3 linked regions of the Homo sapiens genome follow. The protein of the gene in region 2 interacts with the protein of the main gene of each other region in a biochemical or structural test. Each region holds a gene or a part of one and is shown on either strand. Other genes may lie near its edges.

What was found.
Region 1: the proteins of SH3RF1 (region 2) and KCNJ1 form a complex in vitro, tested with the Homo sapiens proteins (one study listed by BioGRID).
Region 3: the proteins of SH3RF1 (region 2) and HERPUD1 form a complex in vitro, tested with the Homo sapiens proteins (one study listed by BioGRID).

What each region holds. Positions count from the first base shown.
Region 1 is NC_000011.10:128,864,255-128,871,939, forward strand, and holds the start of KCNJ1 (ATP-sensitive inward rectifier potassium channel 1), read right to left. Parts: upstream 3,043-7,685; 5' UTR 2,919-3,042; exon of another isoform or gene 2,496-2,918; intron 2,402-2,495; exon of another isoform or gene 2,299-2,401; coding exon of another isoform or gene 2,269-2,298; intron 1-2,268. UniProt on the Homo sapiens protein: Inward rectifier potassium channels are characterized by a greater tendency to allow potassium to flow into the cell rather than out of it.
Region 2 is NC_000004.12:169,134,851-169,142,008, forward strand, and holds part of SH3RF1 (E3 ubiquitin-protein ligase SH3RF1), read right to left. Parts: intron 1,771-7,158; coding exon 1,468-1,770; intron 1-1,467. UniProt on the Homo sapiens protein: Has E3 ubiquitin-protein ligase activity. In the absence of an external substrate, it can catalyze self-ubiquitination. Stimulates ubiquitination of potassium channel KCNJ1, enhancing it's dynamin-dependent and clathrin-independent endocytosis.
Region 3 is NC_000016.10:56,927,223-56,935,141, forward strand, and holds the start of HERPUD1 (homocysteine-responsive endoplasmic reticulum-resident ubiquitin-like domain member 1 protein), read left to right. Parts: upstream 1-4,919; 5' UTR 4,920-5,022; coding exon 5,023-5,169; exon of another isoform or gene 5,170-6,072; coding exon of another isoform or gene 6,073-6,093; intron 6,094-7,919. UniProt on the Homo sapiens protein: Component of the endoplasmic reticulum quality control (ERQC) system also called ER-associated degradation (ERAD) involved in ubiquitin-dependent degradation of misfolded endoplasmic reticulum proteins.

The sequences.
Region 1 (7,685 bases), on a different chromosome or scaffold from region 2:
TTTCAAATTTTTAGACAGATGAGGTTTTTCCATGTTGGCCAGGCTGGTCTTGAAATCTTGACCTCAGATGAGCCTCAGCCACCAAAAGTGCTGGGATTACAGGTGTAAGCCACTGCACCAGGCCTATTGTTGACTTTTCTAGGGGTCTATCTTTTATATGTCTCTACACTAATTTTTTTCTTCAGCATTTTTTGAAGATGTTTGTTTTTGTTGTTTTCTTTTTCCAATTTCTGCACACCCTGCTTGTTCATGATGATTTCTGAACCACATAATCGAGCCAACCACTTTTTGCTATTTCACAGCAGTACTAATACTATTCCTGAACCATATATATTTCAGGAGAAAGAGCAGATTGGGAAAGCCTAGGCCCTTTTCTGTATACTTTTGGCTTGAGCCTAGGTCATCACAGTCTTGAATGTGGGAGGGTGAGTGGAAGGAAAAGGGTCTGTGCCATTCAAAGTGTGCTCTTTTTGCGGACTTTGGGAGTCTCTGGCTCCTGTTTCAGAGCTCCACTTCATCCTCGCCTGTCCCCATCACTCTCTGCAGCTGATTGGCCACCAGACTTTGTGTCTTCTCCCTCTTGGTAATCTCCTCCCTGATTACCCGGCCGTGGTCTTACCCTACTCTAGTCCACCTTGCACTGTGCAGGCAGAGCAACTCTTCCACAATGTAAATAAGATCTTACCCCGGTTCTCACCACCTTCCGGACACTGCCCAAGTTCCTCAGCATCACATACTAGGTCCTTCATCGTGGCACCCTGCAGCTTCCCTCACCCCTCCCCTGGCCACCCACCCTCAGCCACACCAGCCTGGTATTCCCTGTGTAAGTCATGCTCTCTCTCATTCTTGCATATTTTTGTAAATGCCATTTCCTTGTTCTAGAATGTTCTTCCCCCTGCCTCCAGTAGGCCCCTTCCTGCCCACCCAGCGCATTTAGGATCATGCTTCCATGAGGTCCTCTGTAGGAAAAGTATGATGTACTTTTCTGTGCAGGCAGCGATGATACTATGAGCTACATTTCTGTGTCACAGTCCCCACTCATCAGGTATCTCTCCCATTAGCGTGTGAGAGCCTGTTTCCATGCACATAGCCCCTAGCCCAAGTACCTGCCCTCTAGAGCAAAGCATTTCCCAAGCCATTCAGTGGTTTCCCAGGACCTAGCATCCAAAACACAATGAGTTCTAATTACAAGCTTGTTGAAAGGCAAATGAAGAAAAAAACCTGTATGTATAATAATAATAGTCATGAGAAAGACAAGAATGAAGAGAAGAAAGACAATAGTCATCACTGGCATCTTAAATTATGGAGCCAAGGGGAGAAACATTTGGGTCACCCTCAGGATCAAACTGCCAGGCCAGAAGCAATTCCACTGAGAGGGCACCAGGAAGCCTTCAATGCATGGAAACCCTGGAGCAAGTAAAAGGCAAAGCATGTGAGTCACAGCTGAATCCCTGGACAATCACTGAGCTGTGACAAGGTGCAGGGTAGACTCATAACCTAGCACAGAAAAACACATTACTGAGGAAAGGAAAAGAACGTGAATGGGGAATTTTGAGACTTAGCTCTTCACAGAAAAGCATGCTTGGCAATTACAAACTTCTTATATTAAAAAAAATCAGGCAAACCAAAAGTCATTAAAGCATTAAAGATTAAGACCCACTCACAAGGAATTCACATACTCTGCTTCTTTACAAGGGCAGTCTTGCACCTACACTGACTTGGTGCACCTCCTTACACAGAAGAAATCCACCTTCATGACTTGAGTATAAAAAAATGCTTTTCTGATGGCCCATACGTTCCCAGATATCTCCACCCCATCATGCTCTTAAAAGCTGAAGCTGACTTAGTGAGAATCCATTTACACTAAACAGTGTAGAGTAAGACAACACAAGCCAAGCCCATGACTGAAGGGAGCCCACAAAGACTGGGCAGCTCCTCCAATGTAACCGAAGATTCAACCAAAGATTCTAACTGCCCTCCAGCCCCAGGGCTACGGAATGGCCCAGGGAAGGCAGCGTGCAGCTCGCAACTAATAATCCAGGTACAACCAGCAGATCAAAAGCATCCAGTGAGTGGCTCTGCCAAGTCCCTGTCCATAAAAGGTCCATAGCACAATCACTATGTTTTGCTCCATTTTGTAAGCCCAGCTAAAAGGAGAAAAATTCAATCATTTTTCCTAAAGATTGCTGGTTGCGAAAGACCAACTCCTTTTAAGCGTCTATGCACCAAATCTGTAAGATACAGATATTGGGAGAAGGGGCTCCATACCTGTTCAGAGCAGAGATAAACAGTTGGCATTCACTGGTATAGAGCAATTGTCACAACAGTCATTAGGAAGCTGAACAAATGTTGAGAAATCCAAATGTATCCATTCAGAATGGTGCAAAATTCCTATAAAGTCCTACATCAGAAAATGAAAGAAAGACATTTGGGTGAAGGTAATCAAAATGTCTGGCTAACTCTTGCCTTTTCCTGATATATGTTTTCCATAATAGACCCCACTAGCACCTTGATCCTCTACCTTAAAGATGGAAACGGCTTGGCAGAGGTTGTGTTACTAGGCAAGGTCTTGCTACAATTGAAAGGATGCCACCAGAGATGAAAACCCTACATACATCTCTGCCACCAAAAGAAGACTTTGGAATCAGGCATGATGCAACCAAAGATTCTTACTGCCCTCCAGCCCCAGGGCTGCGGAGTGACCCAGGGAAGGCAAGATGCAGCACACAGCTAATAATCCACATGTAACCAGCACACCAAAAGCATCCAGTGAGTGAGTTAAAACCATGCTTCTATCTATCCCCCAGGAGTGGACAGACAAGTCTGCCTAGATTTGAGGCGGGGAAAAGAGGTCTAAATTTTCACAAGAATTAACTTCTTTTTCCTACAAAGAGACAATGAGGTGTTTCTCCTCTTACCTCATGGATTGCTGGAGTAAATGTAGAAACAAAAACTCATTTTCTTGGTCTCCAAGAAAGCAACCAGATTCTCGATGTGAGCAAGTCCCTGCACCTTTGATGCAAGAGTTTGGATATGCTAGGTGAGGGTACCCGAGGCCCTGTTGATTTTATGAGTCTGTGGGCCAGCTCAGACCGGCTGCCAACTCATCTGTATGCAACAGTTCTCAAAGAACATAGTTTACTTTATAACCGGATCCAACAAGAGTAGGCGTGGCAGTTAAGTGAGTGAGATACCAAAGGTGTTGAGCTACCAAGGCTAACTAAGAAGGATTTGTTTATGGAACCCTGGCTTGGAACCAGAAGGCCGGTATGCTCATGTCGATGTGTCTAAGTCAAAGGCATGAAGTTGAACACGTGCGCACATGAGGCTGGATGTTACAGGGCAGGGAAGTAGGGGTCCCCAAGGAGCCCCTCACAAATGTCTCCTGTCCTGTGAATCACTCAGTGGCCCTAGAACAGCAGTCCCCAACCTTTTTGGCACCAGGGACCAGTTTCATGGGAGACATTTTTTCCATGGACCAGGGAGGTGGTGGGGGAGGATGGTTTCGAGATGATTCAAACACATGACATTTATTGTGAACTTTGTTTCTACTGTGTTTACTTATAATAATTACTTTACTTCTATTATATTCTATTATATTCCTTATTTCATTATATATTATATTCTAATATATAATGAAATAATATTCTATTACATTATATAATATTCTATTCTATTCTATAATATTATAGAATGAAATAATGAATATGGGATGAAATAATGAAATATTCTATTCTATTATAGAAGGAAATAATATTCTATTCTATTCTATGAAATAATATTCTATTATATTCCTTATTTCATTATGTATTATATTCTAATATATAATATAATATATATTATGTATTATATTCTAATATATTATATAACATATATTATGTATTATATTCTAATATACTCTATAACATATATTCTGTATTATATTCTAATATATTATATAACATATATTCTGTATTATATTCTAATATATTATATAACATATATTCTGTATTATATTCTAATATATAATATATATTCTGTATTATATTCTAATATATAATATATATTATGTATTATATTCTAATATATAATATATATTCTGTATTATATTCTAATATATAATATAATATATATTATGTATTATATTCTAATATATTATATAACATATATTACGTATTATATTCTAATATGTTATATAATATATATTACGTATTATATTCTAATATATTATATAACATATATTACGTATTATATTCTAATATATTATATAACATATATTACGTATTATATTCTAATATATTATATAACATATATTACGTATTATATTCTAATATATTATATAACATATATTACGTATTATATTCTAAATATTATATAACATATATTACATATTATATTCTAAATATTATATAACATATATTACGTATTATATTCTAATATATCATATAATATATATTATGTATTATATTCTAATATATAATGAAATAATTATACAACACCACCATAATGTCGAATCAGTGGGAGCCCTGAGCTTGTTTTCTTGCAACTAGACAGTCCCATCTGGGGGTGATGGGAGACAGTGACAGATCATCAGGCGTTAGATTCTCATAAGGAGCGCACAGCCTAGATCCCTCGAATGCGCAGTTCACAAAAGGGTTCAGGATCCTGTGAGAATGTAATGCCGCTGCTGATCTGACAGGAAGCGGAGCTCAGGCAGTAATGTGAGCCATAGGGAGTGGTCAAAATACAAATGAAGCTTTGCTCACCTACCACTCACCTCCTTCTGTGCAGCCTGGTTCCTAGCAGGCCACAGACCAGGTGTGGGGACTCCTGCCCTAGAAGGTCAGGCTGACCTGACTTTCTCTTGGCCATTCACCAGCCACCCTGGTCCCGGGGCAATGCAGAACTTTACATCACAGACTTTGCACTTCAGTGGTGGGGTTGAGACCCTGCTCTACCAACTGCAAGTTACCTAGCTTCTCACCTCAGAAGTCTACAGTGGGAAGCTCAAGAGATAGCATATGTAATACACTTGTCATTGAATGAACAGGGTTGAAATCCAACCTACTCCGAGTGTCAGCCTTCTGTCTTCCTCCTCAGCCCACCCCCTAGGGCCATCTCCCACTAGGAGACTGAGGGAGAGGAGTCCTTACCCCACACCCCTCCTGAGTTGCTCTCTTCCCACTGTTCCTCACACTTCACAGCTGGTAATCACTTGAAGCATTGATTGGGTTCGCAAGAAGCAAGAGTGGGTGACTGTGGGCTGGCCACATGCCCCTTCACTGCCTGTCCCCTCCTCCACTCAACACCACACAAGATTGTAGGAGGGATCAACCTCAGCTCAAGAGTCAAAGAGATGAGAAGCATCAGAGCAGCAGCGTAGCTTGGAGACCATACACCAGGTTCCTGACACCAGTCCCCGGGGCAGGACAGCTGAGTCTCCATGATGCTCAGAGAAGGGATAAAATGGAAACAGATGCAAAATTTCACGGAAAAGGCACTTTTGCTTTCAAACATTTATAAGCATAACCAGTCATTACAGATAAGGAAAAAGAACATAGTAGGTTGCTATGGTCTGAATGTGTCTCACAAAATTTATATATTGAAACATAATCCCCATGAGATAGTTTTAAGAGGCAGGGCCTTTAGGAGGTGATTAAGTCATCAGGTAGAGCCCTTCCAGATGGGGTTAGGGCCCTTATCAAAGGGCTCGAGGGAGGAGGTTCATTCTCTTCTGCTGTGAGGACACAGTGTTTGTCCTCTTTCTGCCCGTCTGCCTTCCACCATGTGATGCAGTGGTCAAGGCCTCAGCAGACATCAAACCTGCCTGTGCCTTGGTCTTGGACTTCCAGCCTCCATAACTCTCTGTGGTTTATAAATTACCCAGCCTCAGATATTTTGTTACAGCAGCCCAGACAGAACAAGACACAGGTGTAAGTGAAGCCACTTGCAGAAGGGTTCCCATGCGAAGTGAGGTGGGAGGAGACCCACACTAAGGAGCTACAACATGGTGGGGGAAAGAGCAACAGGCGGGGAGTCCACGCTCCTGCTAAATCTGGCCTTCTCCCTTCACAGGTGGCCTCCTGTGGTCACGCCTGTCCCTGCTGCTGCTTGCCGTCCTTGGGTTCACCCCCTCTGTCCACAGGCCCTCCCTTCTGCACCCCTCACTGCGTGGCCCTCTACCTACCTTTGCAGGCCTCCCAATCCCCCCAGTGGGATATTCCCAAGCCTCAGGTTCACCCAACCCTACCCCTGAGCAGGCCTGGGTGTGGAGGCCAGGAGAACACGCCCTGCAGCCCAACGAAACGCAGGGAGAGGAAGTGTCCAAGGCCAAAGGGGCTGCACTCTGAAGGGACTGAGCACAGGAGGACATGAAGGGAGGCAGTCCCCGGGAGAGGTGGGCTCCTCCAAGGGTGCCTTTGGCTGGAGCACTCTTGCACGGCCGTGGAATCTTCCTTAGACTCCATGGCAGTCTAGGATGCATCCTCCCAACCTGCTCTCCCTCCTCCCCTCAGGGTCTGCCCTGAGTCCTGGTCTGAAAACTCCTCAGACAGCCTCCCTCTGACTTTCCTCACCTGGGCATCTCCTCCAACAAAATCTTGGCATTTTTAATCCCCTCTTGGCATCTGCTTCTCAGAGGCCCTGGACTGGTGCATGAGGCTCTTCAGATGGGATGTGAACTGTCAGAGAGCTTGGCAGGAGGCCCTTTGGAGTCCCACAGAACAACTCAGGAAAGGGGGCTTCCCTGACCCAATGTCCAGCGTGGAGGCCCTAGGGGGCAGGCATTCTGAGCCTCCCCACCTGTGTGGGCTGAAGGCGTGTCTTTGACTCTTGTGATCCAGCAGACAGCTGTGGAAATACAAACACATACAGAGAAACATGTGTCTCCCCCAGGTAAGCATTCATCCTCACAGAATAAACCCCAAACAGGGAGAAGTGTTTTTTAACTACTTCATTCATTTGCAAGGCAGGTACCTTTTGCACAATGGAGCCAGAATGTCTCATTATTATGCAGACCAGGGAGTTATCTTACCTTCATCCCCCACTCCTTGCCCCCAATCTTCAAAACTGGGCCCTTTTGGACCTGCTGGGAATGAGAAAGAGGACTGTTGCTAAGCAACAGGGAGGGCAGGGGATGCATTCTCCCTGTTCCACAAATCCTAGTCTTAAAGCACAAATGATAGCGTTTGCCCTGATGGAATCCTACACCTTCCAGTACCCCAGCGGGATGCACTCTCAGTCCTTCCGCCTTACCACTGTCTTCACGGAGAAATTCCGTTCCTGCTGTGGCGCCTGGCAACTGCTTCACTACCTCTGTAGCCATGAGACAGCCTGAGTCCTCCATGGTGGGATTGTGTGTGACAATGAGAAGACAGCCCAACTCCTCTTTCCCTGATGCAGTCCGGCCCCTCTGTGCTGTGTAGCCTCACCAGGTTCCCAACACTGATGAGGTTACACGCCCAGCATTTACTCCTCAGACTGGACCTGGAGCATCCCGCCGCTGGACCTGAGTGAAGACCAGAGTCAACAGACGGTTTTCTCTTTCTCTTAAAGAAGTTTGGAACATTTGAAACATATTATCCTATTCATGACTAATATTCCAACAGGAGTCATTCAGATAAACAAAAAGCCTTTCCAGGTGCTTGTCTGATTTAGAGGAAGGCAGCACATTCCCATTCACACAACAGAGGGGCCAGGTGCCTCTG
Region 2 (7,158 bases):
GTGTACAAAACAAAGACCCTTGCCTTCACTGCACTCATGTTCTAGTTGTGCGTTGTGCGTGTCTTTATTTCTCAATAAGAGTTTCATGGCCCTACCACCTAAAAATGCCACAAAACAACAATCCCACAATCCCATTCAGAAAGTGAATGCATTTAACTTGAAACACGCAGTATAAATCTAAAGGAGCAGGGTCAAATAAATGAGGCTGAGGCTGTGGCTCATACTTGTAATCCCACCACTTTGGGAGGCCCAGGTAGGATGTTCACTTGAGGCCAAGAGCTTGTTACCAGCCTGGGCAACAAGGTGAGACCCCATCTCTATTAAAAACAAACAAACAAACAAACATGAGGCTGAGAAAAAAATGGCAAGGGATATCAAAAACTGTATTTTACATTTTCATTCTGTGGTCCAAAATAGGCACTTACTAGAATGTAAACTTTTTGAGGACCAGGACTGGTATTTCTTTCTTTTTCTTTAAGGGGACATAATTTCATTTTAATGTTTAAAGAAAAAAAAACCACCATAGCTATATGGTGGAGCAGAATGTAAAATCTGCATGAATTTTCAAGATGAAACATGAGACTTGAAAGAAATTCCTTCTGCTTGTGACAGGCAGCTTTGAACTAGATTCTTTGACCTTTAAGTTGAACAAAATACAGCCATCACCTAAGTGGATAATGATAGCAGCCCCGTGGCTTGGGCAGGGTTATAATTAGGTTCTTTTTGTAGTGCAGAATTAAAGCCTAACACAGCAAATTGCTATATTTTAGATATCATGGTATACACAGTGCCTAGAAGGGTCTAATAGTAAAGTGCTCAATAAATGTCTGCCAAATGAATGAATGAATGATTGAATGAATGCCCCAGTCATCCCATGTATTTTTATAAACCTAAGAATAACGCGTGGCTATTTTTTACATACCAGTCCAAAGTTGTAATGAACTAATGAACTTAGAAAGTGTGAGGTCAATTTCTAATTTAAATTAAATGCTTCTTTCTGTCCTTGCTCTTTTTCTCTTCTCTATAATTCTGGGAAGCCTACATATTAAGGTAAGTTACATAGATACAAGCAACTACAAACGTCACGAGTTTGGACCATGGCATCTTAAATCTGGGTGGAGATAAAGTTTTAGTTGGCAAGATCTCCCAAAGCAGTACTGTGAGAAAGTTCTGTAAGGCTGAGTGATTGCTTGGTGAAACTGGTAAGTATTATATAACTCATCTTGTAAGTTCTGATCTTTCCTTTGAAAATGACAGAGTAGTTAGTTCTGGGTTGATACACTCAAGTTAGCTTTCCCTTCTCCATTTTTCCACTTACAAAATGAAGACAGGTTTTGCTTCCCAGAAAAGTTACTATCTTCAGAAGTTCAAAATAAGCAATGTTTGTCAGCCAGTGAGCAAACATGTTTGTAAGTTGATCCTTTTGTGGGTGAGCTCTTTTTATATAACACTTGTTTGAGGATTTACCTGAGAAGGGGCACTGCAGGAGAGCCCAGACAGCTCGCTGATCCGTGCAGCAGCAGTGGGGTTGCTGGAGCTGATGAGGACAGGGGGGCTGATCTCCATGGAGTGGCGGTTCTGGGATGCCTGGGAGGACTTGTTGGCCATAGTGAGGGAAGTGAAGGAGTGCCGCTTTTTGGTGTTCTTCTTGGTGTCGGAGTGCTTTGGGGCAGTGCTGCTCTGGGCTGCTGCCGAGGAACATTCTCCAGCATCAACTCCTGGCACAGGAGGCTTATCCCATTCTATCAGCTGCTTAGCAGCCGAGTTAAACTGCAAAAGCAACCAACAAACCAACACAAGAAGGTTAAACAATTCCTAAGAATTCCCTGAGGTTTATTTCCAACATGATTTCATCCAAAATTTAAAGTCACTACTTTAAAGTTTGCCTATGCAGTGTCTGTTTTTCCCATGTGAGATATCTCTTCTCTCAATATTGGGACTTCATTGTATCTATATCACAGGTAGATATTAAATCAAGAATAAACAATTCCATTGCAAGACTGAAAGAGTAAAAGACAATTTTCTTAAGAATTTCCATAATGTCTGATTTTAAAACTTGCCAATAACAAATGAAAATTTATTTCAGCTCACTGTGAAATTTCGAGAAGAGCAATCAAAATGGTGTATTTATCACCCTTTTCGTGACACCCTGTTGCACAATAATGGTTGGGTATTTGCTCAAAGCACAACTGAACAATGAAGGGGCAACTTCTGGGTTTGGTAAAAATGAGCAAGAAGACAAAGAATAAAACCATTCAAAATGAACTCATGTGCTTCCATGTATATTTACCTCCTGCCTTTCTTTCTGTATTCTGGGAGAACCTCACAAAAAGCTGGCAGAAACTCTTAATATGTTTTTTGTCATGTCATTGTATCAGCTATCATCCTATGTGCACGTACTTTAAATCATAACAGGGTAAGACATGAAATTCAAGTCCTATTGGCAAGTTAACTTCATCTATCTGAAAAGCCCCAGTGTAAATTAAGAGTACCAGGGGTCAAAATCTGTGCACTCCACTGATATTATCAGCAAGAAAGGAAAGAACACAAGCCTTTTGTTTTCCCTAGGGTAAAATAAAACATTTCTGGAAAGCTTCAGTGACAATAAGCTGCATATAACTTTCCCAGATATTACAGTAATGGAAACATAGCTCAACCTCTCAAAAAAAATTGAGATGCAAAATAATAAACTTTTAAAAGGTAACTTAAATATAATATTAAGGAAAACAGTGATTTTTCCATCTCGGCATTACACATTGGGCACTTCACAAATGTCTTTATATAAAATAATATCATGTACTATTTTTCCCACTTAAATTGTTCAGGCTATGTCTTCTCATCCTGTTGATAAGATCACTCTACTAGAAGAATGGAAACTCTCTCAGTCAATATTTTATGAAATGAACTTGCTTTGGAACAACCGCTTCCTCACAAAGCCATGTTAACTGGAGCTCAGCAGTCACTGCTTCTACAGATGATTGCAAATTGACTGACAATTTGTTCCTAAGGCTCCTTGGGGACTCAAATTCAGGTGGCTTGTCTCATCTATAATTAGTAAGATAAATCTTTATCAAACATGACCATATCTCTTCTTCAGACTTTAAGAAGTTTCTCCACATGATAATCATTCAGAAATAATAGGCAGTAACGCCAGAATAACACCTGTCAATGCCTGAAGTACCAATGGCGGGAGAAAGATCATAAAGACTTCTTCCGATATGTGTTTAGGGATGAAAATGAGGTTCTAGTTGAGGGTGGCCCTATTACAAGCATTTTCAAGGCAATTGGCCAGGAGATCCAGAATTTACAAATCCTTTCTTGGTCTAGCTATCCCACCTTGAGAATAAAAAGCCCAAATGAAGCAAAGTAATGCTTTATATTATAGTGGGAGTGGCCTGAACCTCACTGTAGAGCTCTAATAAACTGCAGTGAACCATGGAGGGGTAGGGTCCTCTTTCCTGCACAGGTTGGGTGTAAGGAGCCTGGAAACAAAGCAGATTGAAAAGCTACTTCATCTCCTCCATCCCAAACACAACATCCTCATGAAATGAAGGGCCAGCACACCTGGCAATGCTGGAGAAAAAGGAGCCAGAGAATGTCTTCTTCCACCATAAGCTTATTTAGACACCTAGAAACAAATCTTTGAAAGTGCAAACCTAATCAGTGTGCTGGAAACTGACTGATCAACTCAGCACTCCTGTCCCAGTGAGTAAGAAGTAGAGGAGGGAGTTGAGAAGACTTTCTTCTCATTGAGGCAAAAAATATGAATAGAGGAAACTATCAAATCTAGTTGATATCATGTTTAGATTAATTCTGGGGTCAAACAATAGACTCCATTAGTGGTGCTTGTTTTGAAAGGTTCTGAAAAATTACTATAGTCTCATCATGATCATACCTGGCTGGCCAAGTGTCAGTTATATATTCAACATTGTGTTAGTATTTCAGGTTTCCATATGCTGTGCTCTGGTATAAACATCTGAGGATTAAAATATTGTTCCCAATATTTCCTGCTGCTTTCTCAACAGAACAATACTGGGTGCTTCCTTTGTGTCTTTCTTCATATCATATATTCTCCATTAAAATAAATACACATTGAGCATCTATTTTTGGGGGGACTGGGGGGAAAGGTCTCACTCTGTTGCCCTGGCTGAAGTGCAGTGGCACATTCATTGCTCAGTGCAGCCTCGAACTCCTGGGCTCAAGCAATCCTCTTGCCTCAACCTCCTGAGTAGTTGGGACTATAGGTATGCAACACCACACCCAGCTAATTTTAGTAGCAATGAGGTCTCATTATGATATCTAGCTGGTGTCGAACTTCTGAGCTCAAGCGATCCTCCTGTCTCAGCCTTTCAAAGTGCTGGGATTACAGGCGTGAGCCACTGTGCCTGGACTCTGAGCACCAATTATGTGCTGAATAATGTGCTTGGTGTTAAAGATCTACAAATGCAGAGAAATGATCTCTGCCCTTAAGGACCTTACAAACAGGCATAAAAATAACACAGTGCTTTCCATAATTTCTTATGTCTAGCTACTTTTGCTCAACAATATGCTTTTTGAGATTTATCCATATTGCTCCATGAGTCAGTAGTTCTTTCTTTTAAATTGCTGTGTAATATTCTATTGTGTAAATACACTATAATTTATCTATCCATTCTACTGCTGATTAACATGTGGGTTTTCTTTCCTCCTTTCCTGTCTTCCTTCCTTCCAATAGACAGTGGCTATTAAGAACAATGCTGCTGTGAATAATCTAGTTATGTGTCTTTTGGTGGACATAAGCTCCCATCTGGATATTGGGTACATGTCCAGGAGTAGAACTGCTGGACCATAGGGTTGGATGCTTGGAAAAATTTATGCAGAATCATGTGTATGCAGGTAGACACATCCTGGAGTGGTGTAACAAGCCAACTGGCAAGTAGAAGACCACAGTTCTAGTCCTAGCACAGCCATTACCTAACTTTGGGGCCTTAAGGGAGCCATCTTACCTCTATTGTTCACAGCTTCCTAATCTATAAAGTAAGTTGGAGCCAATGATTTTTAGGTCTCTTTTAGCTCTCCACATGTATAATGCATAATCTCACTTTAAATGGACAAGTTTCATTTTTCTATTTGATTTCTATTCCTCTAAATAGCCTAGCATATTTTTTCTGCATTTGATTTTTATGCATGGACAGTAATATTTGTTAGCAAGATGCTGTCATACTTTAAAATTACTTGAGATTTCTTCTGAAGCAGCACATATTAGTATTAAAAAACACTGCTCCTTGCTTCCTGTATCAGTTCCAGAGAAAATCATAAAGTTAAGACTATTTGGTAGAGGCATTAAGTAAATCAGGCAGAAACATAAAGCAGCTTTTGCTGTAAGTATAGCAACCTTTGGTAACAATAGGAAACCAAGAATCTGATAGCTTTTAGTAGAATTTTGATAAAATTCATGTATGAATGTTTGAGCTCAGTAGTGTGAGCTTTCTGTGACATTTATCTAACTATGACCTTTAATGTTAGGAGTACACTCATCACCTGCAAAATAAATTTGTATCCTAAAATACCTTCTTCCAAGCATTTGGTAAGGAGCTTTGATAAGACTTAGGTTGGATATAAGGTAAAATTCAGTATACTGGAGATAAAAGCAGGGATTCTATTCATTACTCTTAAAATTCTTATGCCCCTTTTTGGAAAAAAGTCTAAAATGTAGAAAGAATGTGTTTTTGAGAGTTATCAGAAGTATAAATAAATATGAGATGAAATACTGACAAAAATAATATTAATAAAAACAACAAGGCAGCTTAAGAAATATTAAAATAAACTTTTTTGTGTGTATGGTTGCCCTCTTTGCTAGAGAGAATATAGCCTTTTTTAAAAGGCGGGACTTACAATATTTTAAAGAGAAAAAATTTTTTAATAAGAACTAAGTTGAATAGTTACTATTTTATAGGAAGCTTTACAGATGAATCAGTCTGTAGCTTCTGAGCACTACAGGATACAAACAGTAGATCTGAGAAGTAATTATTTTAATTCACAACCCACTAGAGCAAGCTTGTCCAACCCACGGTCCTCTACATGTAGCCCAACACAAATTTGTAAACTTTCTTAAAACATTATGAGATTTTTTTTGAGGTTTTGTTTTTTCTTTTCTTTTTTTTTTTTTTTTAAGCTCATCAGCTATTGATAGTGTTAGTGTATTTTATGTGTGGCCCAGGACAATTCTTCTTCCAATGTGATCCAGGGAAGCCAAAAGATTGGACACCCTTGGTATAGAACATTATGAAGTAAAAAGTAAAAGGCCTCAGCCAGTTCCCCACATCTGTCTCTTCCCAACCCACTTCCCAGATGGATTTCCATTTAACAATTTAAAACATATCCTTCATTTTCTATGTAGATGTTGTTATACATGTATCTACTTTATTGATTTTTAATACAAATAAAACCAAGCAATCCATTCTATTCTCTCATGAAATAATATTTCATGAACATCTTTGCATATCAATAGGGATAGGCTGATAGCATGGTATTCCATTTTATAGAGACGTTGCCATTTACTATGTCTTGGCAGGCTCGTACAAGCATATCCATAGGGTAAACTCCTAAAAGTAGAATTTGCTAGATCAAAGTGTAAGTTTAAAAATCGTTTTTTGAAGTAACAAGGTGTATTATATTGTTTTAACTTGTATTTCTATTTATTAATGAGATTAAGCATCTATTTTCTTTTTTTAGGATTTGCTTATTTCCATACTCTATCCATATTTCTATTGGATTGTTAGTATTTTTCTTATAGACTGATATAAATACTTTTTTTTTTTTTTTGGAGACAGGGTCTCCCTCTGTCATTGAGGCTAGAGTGCAGTGGCACAATCTCAGCTCAGTGCAACCTCTGCCTCCCCGATTCAAGTGATTCTCCTGCCTCAGCCTCCTGAGTAGCAGAGATTATAGGCAAGTGCCACCATGGCCCGCCTAATTTTTGCTTTTTTTTTTTTTTTTTTGAGATGGAGTCTCGCTCTGTTGCCCAGGCTGGAGTGCAGTGGCGTGATGTCGGCTCACTGCAAGTTCTGCCTCCCAGGTTCACGTCATTCTCCGGCCTCAGCCTCCTGAATAGCTGGGACTACAGGTGCCTGCCACTACACCTGGCTAATTTTGTTTTTGTATTTTTTTAGTATAGAC
Region 3 (7,919 bases), on a different chromosome or scaffold from region 2:
GCCACCGCCTCCCAGGTTCAAGCGATTCTCCTGCCTCAACCACCCCAGTAGCTGGGATTACAGGTGCCCGCCACCACGCCTGACTATTTTTTTTCTATTTTTAGTAGAGATGATGATTTTTCACTATGTTGGCCAGGCTGGTCTCGAACTCCTGGCCTGAGGTTATCTGCTTGCCTTGGTCTCCCAAAGTGCTGGGATTATAGGCATGAACCACCACTCCTGTCCCCAAATTTCTTTAAAAGGAGCTATCTCACCAGGCGATAACTCAAGAGAGAATCACAGAAATTAGATTGCCTTTTCCCTAGGGGAAGAAAATGCAAAATCACACTCCTAAACTTTCTTTCTTCTGAGTGGAAAGGGATAAGATATCTTAACGTCTTAAGGGGCCCTGAGGCTTGTCACTGCAGGTGAGGGGAAACCACACTACTGGCATATTTGATTTCTCAATGCAGCTGTCACCTCCTGCCTTGCTGCCTCCTTTAATGCCTATGTTGGTTTTACCTGGGCTTGCTCCACTGGTTAGCTTCTCCCTAGTTGCAAGACTACCAGATCATAATCAGTTATTATCTCCCATCCTGATGTGTGAAAAGCTACAGAATTTGTGGGACCCAGTGCAAAATGAAAATGCAAGGCTTCTGTTTAAAATTTATTAAGAATTTAAAGATAATAGCAGAGCATTAAACCAAGCATGGGGCCCCATCCACTACATGGGTCCCACACCCATGAAGCCAGCTTTGATGAAAAAAGGGTTAGGCCAGGTGGTGGCTCGCACCTGTAATCCCAGCACTTTGGGAGGCCGAGGCAGGTGGATCATTTGAAGCCAGGAGTTCGAGACCAGGCTGGCCAACATGGTGAAACCCTGTCTCTACTAAAAATACAAAAACTAGCTTGGCTTGGTGGTGGGCACCTGTAATCCCAGCTACTTGGGAGGCTGAGGCAGGATAATTGCTTGAACCTGGGAGGTGGAGTTGCAGTGAGCGGAGATCATGCCACTGCACTCCAGCCTGGGCAACAGAGCACGACTCCGTCTCAAAAAAGAAAAAAAGGTCAGAGCCTTCTCAGCCGACCAAAACCACTTGCAGAAAGCTGAGTGTGGGGACAATTTATTTCCAAAGCCCTCAACCTCTCATCTTAATATAAAGACAGCTGAGAAAGAAATCACCCTGTATTGTGTGTTATATTAAGATTGACTATTGTGGACTGAATTGAGTCCTCCAAAGAGATGCTGAAGCCCTAACCACCAGTACCTGTGAATGTGGCAGCATTGGGAAATAGGGCCTTTGCAGATGATGGAGTTAAGATGAGGTTATTAGTGTGGGTCCCAATCCATGATGACTGGTACTCTTATGGAAAAAAGAAATGTGGACACAGAGCCAGACATGCACACAGGGAAGATGATGTGAAGAGACCTACAAAAGGAGAACCCATGAGAAGATGAAGACAGGTTGGGGTGATGCTTCTATATGCCAAGGAACGTCAAAGAGTGCCAGCAGGCCGGGGGCGGTGGCTCACGCCTGTAATCCCAGCACTTTGGGAGGCCGAGGTGGACGGATCATGAAGTCAGGAGTTTGAGACCAGCCTGGTCAACATGGTGAAACCCCATCTCTACTAAAAATACAAAAATTAGCCAAGTGTGGTGGTGGGCGCCAGTAGTTCCAGCTACTCAGGAGGCTGAGGCAGGAGAATTGCTTGAACCTGGGAGGTAGAGGTTGCAGTGAGCCAAGATTGTGCCACTGCACTCTGGCCTGTGCATCAGAGCGAGACTCTGTCTCAAAAAAAAAAAAAAAAAAAAATCGGCCAGGCGCCGTGGCTCACGCCTGTAATCCCAGTATGTTGGGAGGCCGAGGCGGGTGGATCACAAAGTCAGGAGATCGAGACCATTCTGGCAAACGGTGAAACCCTGTCCTTACTTAAAAATACAAAAAATTAGCCAGGCGTGGTGGCGGGCACCTGTAGTCCCAGCTACTTGGGAGGCTGAGGCAGGAGAATGGTGTGAACCCGGGAGGCAGAGCTTGCAATGAGCCGAGATCATGCCACTGCACTCCAGCCCAGGCGACAGAGCGAGACTCCGTCTCAAAAAAAAAAAAAGTGCCAGCAAACCACCAGGATAGGAGAGGGGCCTGGAAGATTCTCCCCCGAGGCCTCAGAAGGAACCAACCCTGCCGACACCTTGATCTCAGACTTCCAGTTTCCAGAACCAAGACAATAAATTTCTGTTTCTTAAGCCAGGAGTTCCCAACCTTTTTGACACTAGGGACCAGTTTTGTGGAAGACAGTTTTTCCACAGGCCAGAGGTGGGGTGGGGGGGGCATTGTTTCAGGATGATTCGAGCACATTACATTTATTGTGCACTTTATTTCTATTATTATTACATTGTAATATATAATGAAATAATTATACTACTCACCATGGTGTAGAATCAGTGGGAGCCCTGAGCTTGTTTTCCTACAACTAGATGGTCTCATCTGTGGGTGATAGGAGACAGTGACACCCGAAGTATGGTGCTTATGTCAAGTCTACCCATTTTGGCTGCTGTCACTGCAGAAAACCCTGCTTCACAGAGATGGGATGTTGCAATAGGCCAGGCATGGAGGCTCACATCTGTACTGCTAGCACTTTTGGAGGCCAAGGCAGCTGGATCACTTGAGGCGAGGAGTTCAAGACCAGCCTGGCCAATATAGCACAACCCCATCTGTCTCTACTAAAAATAATAAAAATTATATATATAGCCAAGTGTGGTGGTGCACTCTTGTAATCCTAGCTACTTGGTAGGCGGAGGCATGAGGCACAAGAATGGCTTAAACCAGAGAGGCGGAGGTTGCAGTGAGCCGAGAACGTGCCATTGCACTTCAGCCTGGGCGACAGAGTGAGACCCTGTCTCAAAAAAAAAAAGGATGTTGGAAATGAAAGCAGGCTTTTCAGTGTTTTTGTGGCCATCTCAGGATTAAAGCCTAGACTTTAACCCAGAACGTGGAGATTTGAAGTTGTCTCAAACATACTGTTTTTTTGTTGTTGTTGTTGTTGTGTTTTTGTTTTTTTTTTTTTGAGACGGAGTCTCGCTCTGTTGCCCAGGCTGGAGTGCGATGGCACAATCTCGGCTCACTGCAACCTCCACCTCCCGGGTTCAAGCAACTTTCCTGCCTCAGCCTCCTGAGTAGCTGGGATTACAGGCACGTGCCACCATGCCCGGCTAATTTTTGTATTTTTTAGGAGAGACGGGGTTTCACCATGTTGGTCATGCTGGTCTGGAACTCCTGACCTTGTGATCCACCTGCCTCGGCCTCCCAGAATGTTGGGATTACAGGCGTGAGCCACCTCGCCCAGCCTCAAACATACTTTTAAGGCCACCAGATGCAGCTGTACAACTGAAGTACATACACTTGCCATTGTAAAGCCTGCCACCAGATGCAGCTTGTCACTTGCCACTCACTGATAGTGTTTTGATATGAGTCTGCAAGCAATTGATTTATGATGGCCTCTGTGCAGTGAAACCTCTCTGCTAATGTTAATCCGTATTTGCAGCCACTCTCAGCACTAGCATCAGCAACTCAGCTCCACCTCCCATCATCAGGCATTCGATTCTCGTAAGGAGCACAGCCTAGTTCCCTTGCGTGCACAGTTCACAATAGGGTTCGGCTCCTGTGAGGATCTAATGCCCCCTGATCTAACAGGAGGCTGAGCTCAGGTGGTAATGCAGCGATAGGGAGCAGCTGTAAATACAGATGAAGCTTCGCTGGTGGCTCACCTCCTGCGGTGCCGCCTGGTTCCTAATAGGCCAGGGACTCATAGTGGTCCGTGGCCCAGGGGGGTTGGGGACCCCGTCTTAAGCCATCCAGTTTGTGGCACTTTGTTATGGCAGCTGCAGCAGATGAATATACCCACCAACCAGACCAGGCTCCTCCTGTTACCTTCCTGACCTTGACAAGCTCCTGACAACACCTGAAAAAACAGATGTCCCAAGGGGGTTGGAACAAGGAGGGAGCCGGGGCAATGTCAGTTTTGTTTTTCAAGCCTTTTTTTTTTTTTTTTTTTTTCCTACAGAGGAGGAGGAGGGAACGCCTACAATAAAGAGGCCTTTATGGTCCCACTTCAGGAATCGGAGAACCCCGCCCTCCTCGTCTCAGCCCCAATTTAACGGGTGCATGTGTGAGTATCTTATAAAGTGACGCGTTTTGAGGGGGACTCCAGTGTGAGCAGGACTGTGGCTGACTTGTCAATCATCATTAGGGTGATGTCCCAAACGTTCAAGTCTGAGGCCCAGGGAAATTGGCAACAGCTGCCTGGATGCCTCCATCCTCCCAGCCCAAGGAAAATCTGGCCTTGCTCCTTCGTTGTCTTTCTTAGGAGCACGTGGAGTTCTCCTAGGTGGGCTTGCACTCGGGGTCGCCCAGCCGTTCTTTGAGGGTTCGAGTGGGTAGGCTTCCCCTGTAGGACGGGCTTCCCCGTAGGTTTCCACGTGGGGCCACAGAGGCAGGAAAAGGGGAAGTGGGCACTGACACCTGGGGTGAAAAAGGGTGGGGGTGCGGCTTTGTGAGGAAAGAATTTGCAGAGACTGCTAAACTGGGGTCTGCTAGGATACCCCACTCCCCACCCCCTGCCTCGGGCGCCCTCAGCCACCCGAGCTGGGGGCCTCGCAGGTCTCAGACCAAGCTCCCCGCGCGGCCTGCAGCGCACCCAAACATGGCCACCGAACCCGGGTTCCCGGGGCACAGCCGCGCCTCTGGGTGACGCAGACGCGGCGGGTTGCATCAGCCCGTGCCCACGTGCTCGGTCCGCCCTCTGCCACCCGGATCCGGACGCCGATTGGGCCACGTTGGGAGAGTGCCTCCGCCTCAGCCAATGGGCGGCAGCCACAGAGCGTTCTGTCCGCAGAGCCGGGCGCGGGGCTTCTATAAAAGGCGCCCGAAGCGGGGGCGCGCGCCCCAGAGACGTGAACTGTCGTTGCAGAGATTGCGGGCGGCTGAGACGCCGCCTGCCTGGCACCTAGGAGCGCAGCGGAGCCCCGACACCGCCGCCGCCGCCATGGAGTCCGAGACCGAACCCGAGCCCGTCACGCTCCTGGTGAAGAGCCCCAACCAGCGCCACCGCGACTTGGAGCTGAGTGGCGACCGCGGCTGGAGTGTGGGCCACCTCAAGGCCCACCTGAGCCGCGTCTACCCCGAGCGTCCGGTGAGAGCGGCCCCGACTTCCCGCCCCTAGGCTGTGGCCCCCCGCCCTCTGCTGGGGATGCCACGTCCGGCTGCCCTGTCCTGTGGCCTCCTCCCGCTGACGGCTGCGATCGCTCGGCCGGTCACCTCCCCCAGGGCTGTGGTCTCCCCTTCCCTGCCCCGCCGACGCGGGCGCCCCTCTGTTGCCCAGTAGCCGTCAGTAATCAGCAGCCTGACCTTGGGCGAGTCATTTCACCCTCCAAGCCTGTTTCTCCCCCAGCGGCCAGGCAACTCGGTGTTCCTAATTGGGCTTGCATCCAATGGCTAGAAGTAAGAAAACATCCGTGCTGCAAAATGAGGTTTCTGAACGCAGCCTCTCTGCAGGGAGAGGAGCGGGCAGGTGCCACCCGGGGCCGTGGCTTGAGAAACCTGGGGACCGCCCAGACACTGTGGACGGAAGGCCCCACACCCAGAAGCAGGACGTGGCTCTTCTCCTCCCTGGCCACCTTCCGCCGTGCCCCTCCCTGTCGCACTGGACCGAGCAGCCATTGCCGAGTCCCGGGGTGGAGCCCCGTGCACTTTCTGACCAAGAGCGACTGAGAAGGGAAGCAGGCAGGAGTCGCCTTCAGTCTGGTTTTAGGACGGCAGCCTCTCCATTATTAGCAAGACTTCCTTGCTTTGTTTTGGTTGACACATCTGTCAACATCACCCTTAGCACCGCCTGCCCTGGCCACCACGTGATGAGGCTGTAAGCTGGCCCTTCCTGTATTTACTTTCTGCTCTGATATTATGTAAGTGTCAGCAGTGTTCTTCACTGCCCACGAGCATAATTCTTCATCACACAGGAGAGGGCATCCGGGCAGGAAAAGATAGTGAAGTCGTGAGTTCCAGCTTGTGGTAGCGCCTGTGTCTGTTTTTGTTTCATATGGTCAAGAATGTTTTAGAAGTGAGTTTTCCTTCTGAGTTGTTATTTTGAAATTTGCATATTTATTTAGTAAGCTTGCATTCCATGTCCTCTAGAATTCACCCTGGCACATTTTTCAGTTTCACCATAGCTGCTTCCAAGAAACTGGGTGGCTGTGTTGCCATGAGAATGACTATTGGGTACACAAATTGGTGAAGCAGGTGTAGCCTATGGTTGCATCATATGGCAAAAGGCAGGATTTTGGCGGAGGATTTTTAAGGTCTTCCTTTGATGAGGAATGCCGCTCCCATCTGTTCAGTCTGAAGACCTAACATTGTAAACAAATACCTCTCAGGTATACAAATTTGTGTCTAAAAATTATTATGGCTGAAACATACTTATCATTTGTTTTCTGTAGTAGAAAATGGCATAATATGAGAAGGCCTACTTTGTAATAGTTGTTTGCTTTACTTAATATTTTTCAAATCAGCCATCTGTGTGAAGACTCAATATCAAGTTAGGCCTTTAAAAGGGGGAAAATAATTCAAAACCACTGGCAGCTGTGGTTTTCCGGCCTTTTCTATTGGTTGAACTCTGTAATAAATGCAGGACCCTACATATACAAAAGGTACTGTTTTCCAAATTCACGTATGTATTAGCATTTACCTTTAAAGTTCTCATCCGTCAGAAAAACGGTGAACACAGCATTCAGTATATTTATTTTGGTTTAGTTACACAGTGTCAAAAAGTTCTGATGTATATGGATAAGTAGATGCACTTTTTGCTGTTTTGTTTGTTTAAACAGCTTGCTTTAATTATCTCAAGCTACTTGGCAGGAACACCTTTATTCCAGGTTTCGCATAATCAGTTATTCTGGCAAGAGTAGATTAACACGTTAGTGATCTCCAATAGACAGATTATATGTTAATATTATTTGAGGCCATTATTTTTAAGTACAATTTAGACGGAGTTTCAAATAGATTTTAAAAATGAGATTTGTATAAAAGAGTGTGCAGTCCCTATGGTGTTAAAATCACTGATATGGAGGAGAAGAGGGGTTGGAATTGTGACACTGTGGCAGCAGATGACCTTGGACAAGTCAGTTTTTCAGACTTTCCTCCCTTAAAATAGGGATACTAAATCTCACAGGGTGGTTGTGTATAATGTCACCCACACGCCATCTCCTCTATAACTGCATTTGTATGCCAGGAAATTGTCTGTGAAGGCTTCAGTTTAGAATAGCTTCATATTATTTTGGGGCACTGCTGGGTGATTTTGGTTAAGGCTGGCCTTGGGAGTTCTCTGAGTTTTCTCTGAAACCAAACTCAATTTGGTTGTAGGTTCCCTGTTTGCTGTTTGTTGCTTTTAGTAATAGGAGTCAGTCAGTTTACCTGGGAGTTAAGTTTGGACTGGAGATAATTTGCCATTCTTTTTTTTTTTTTTTTTTTTTTTTTTTGAGATAGGGTCTCACTCTGTCGCCCAGGCTGGAGTGCAGTGACATGATCTTGGCTCACTGCAACCTCTGCCTCCCTGGTTCAAGCGATTCCCCTGCCTCAGCCTCCTGAGTAGTTTGGGTTACAGGCACAAGCCACCACGCCCAGCTAATTTTTGCATTTTTAGTAGAGATGGGGTTTCACCATGTTGGCCAGGCTGGTCTCGAACCCCTGACCTCAGGTGATCTGCCCGCCTTGGCCTCCCACAGTGCTTGGATTACAGGCATGAGCCACCATGCCCAGCCGATAATTTGCCATTCTGTATTTATTTGCGTGTTAGAGACCAGTTAAAGTTAAGACACTTTCTAAATAGAAGTCTTGTATATGGGGCTTTTGAGAAAGTGTTTTCCCGTGATGCTGGGGGGAAACACACAT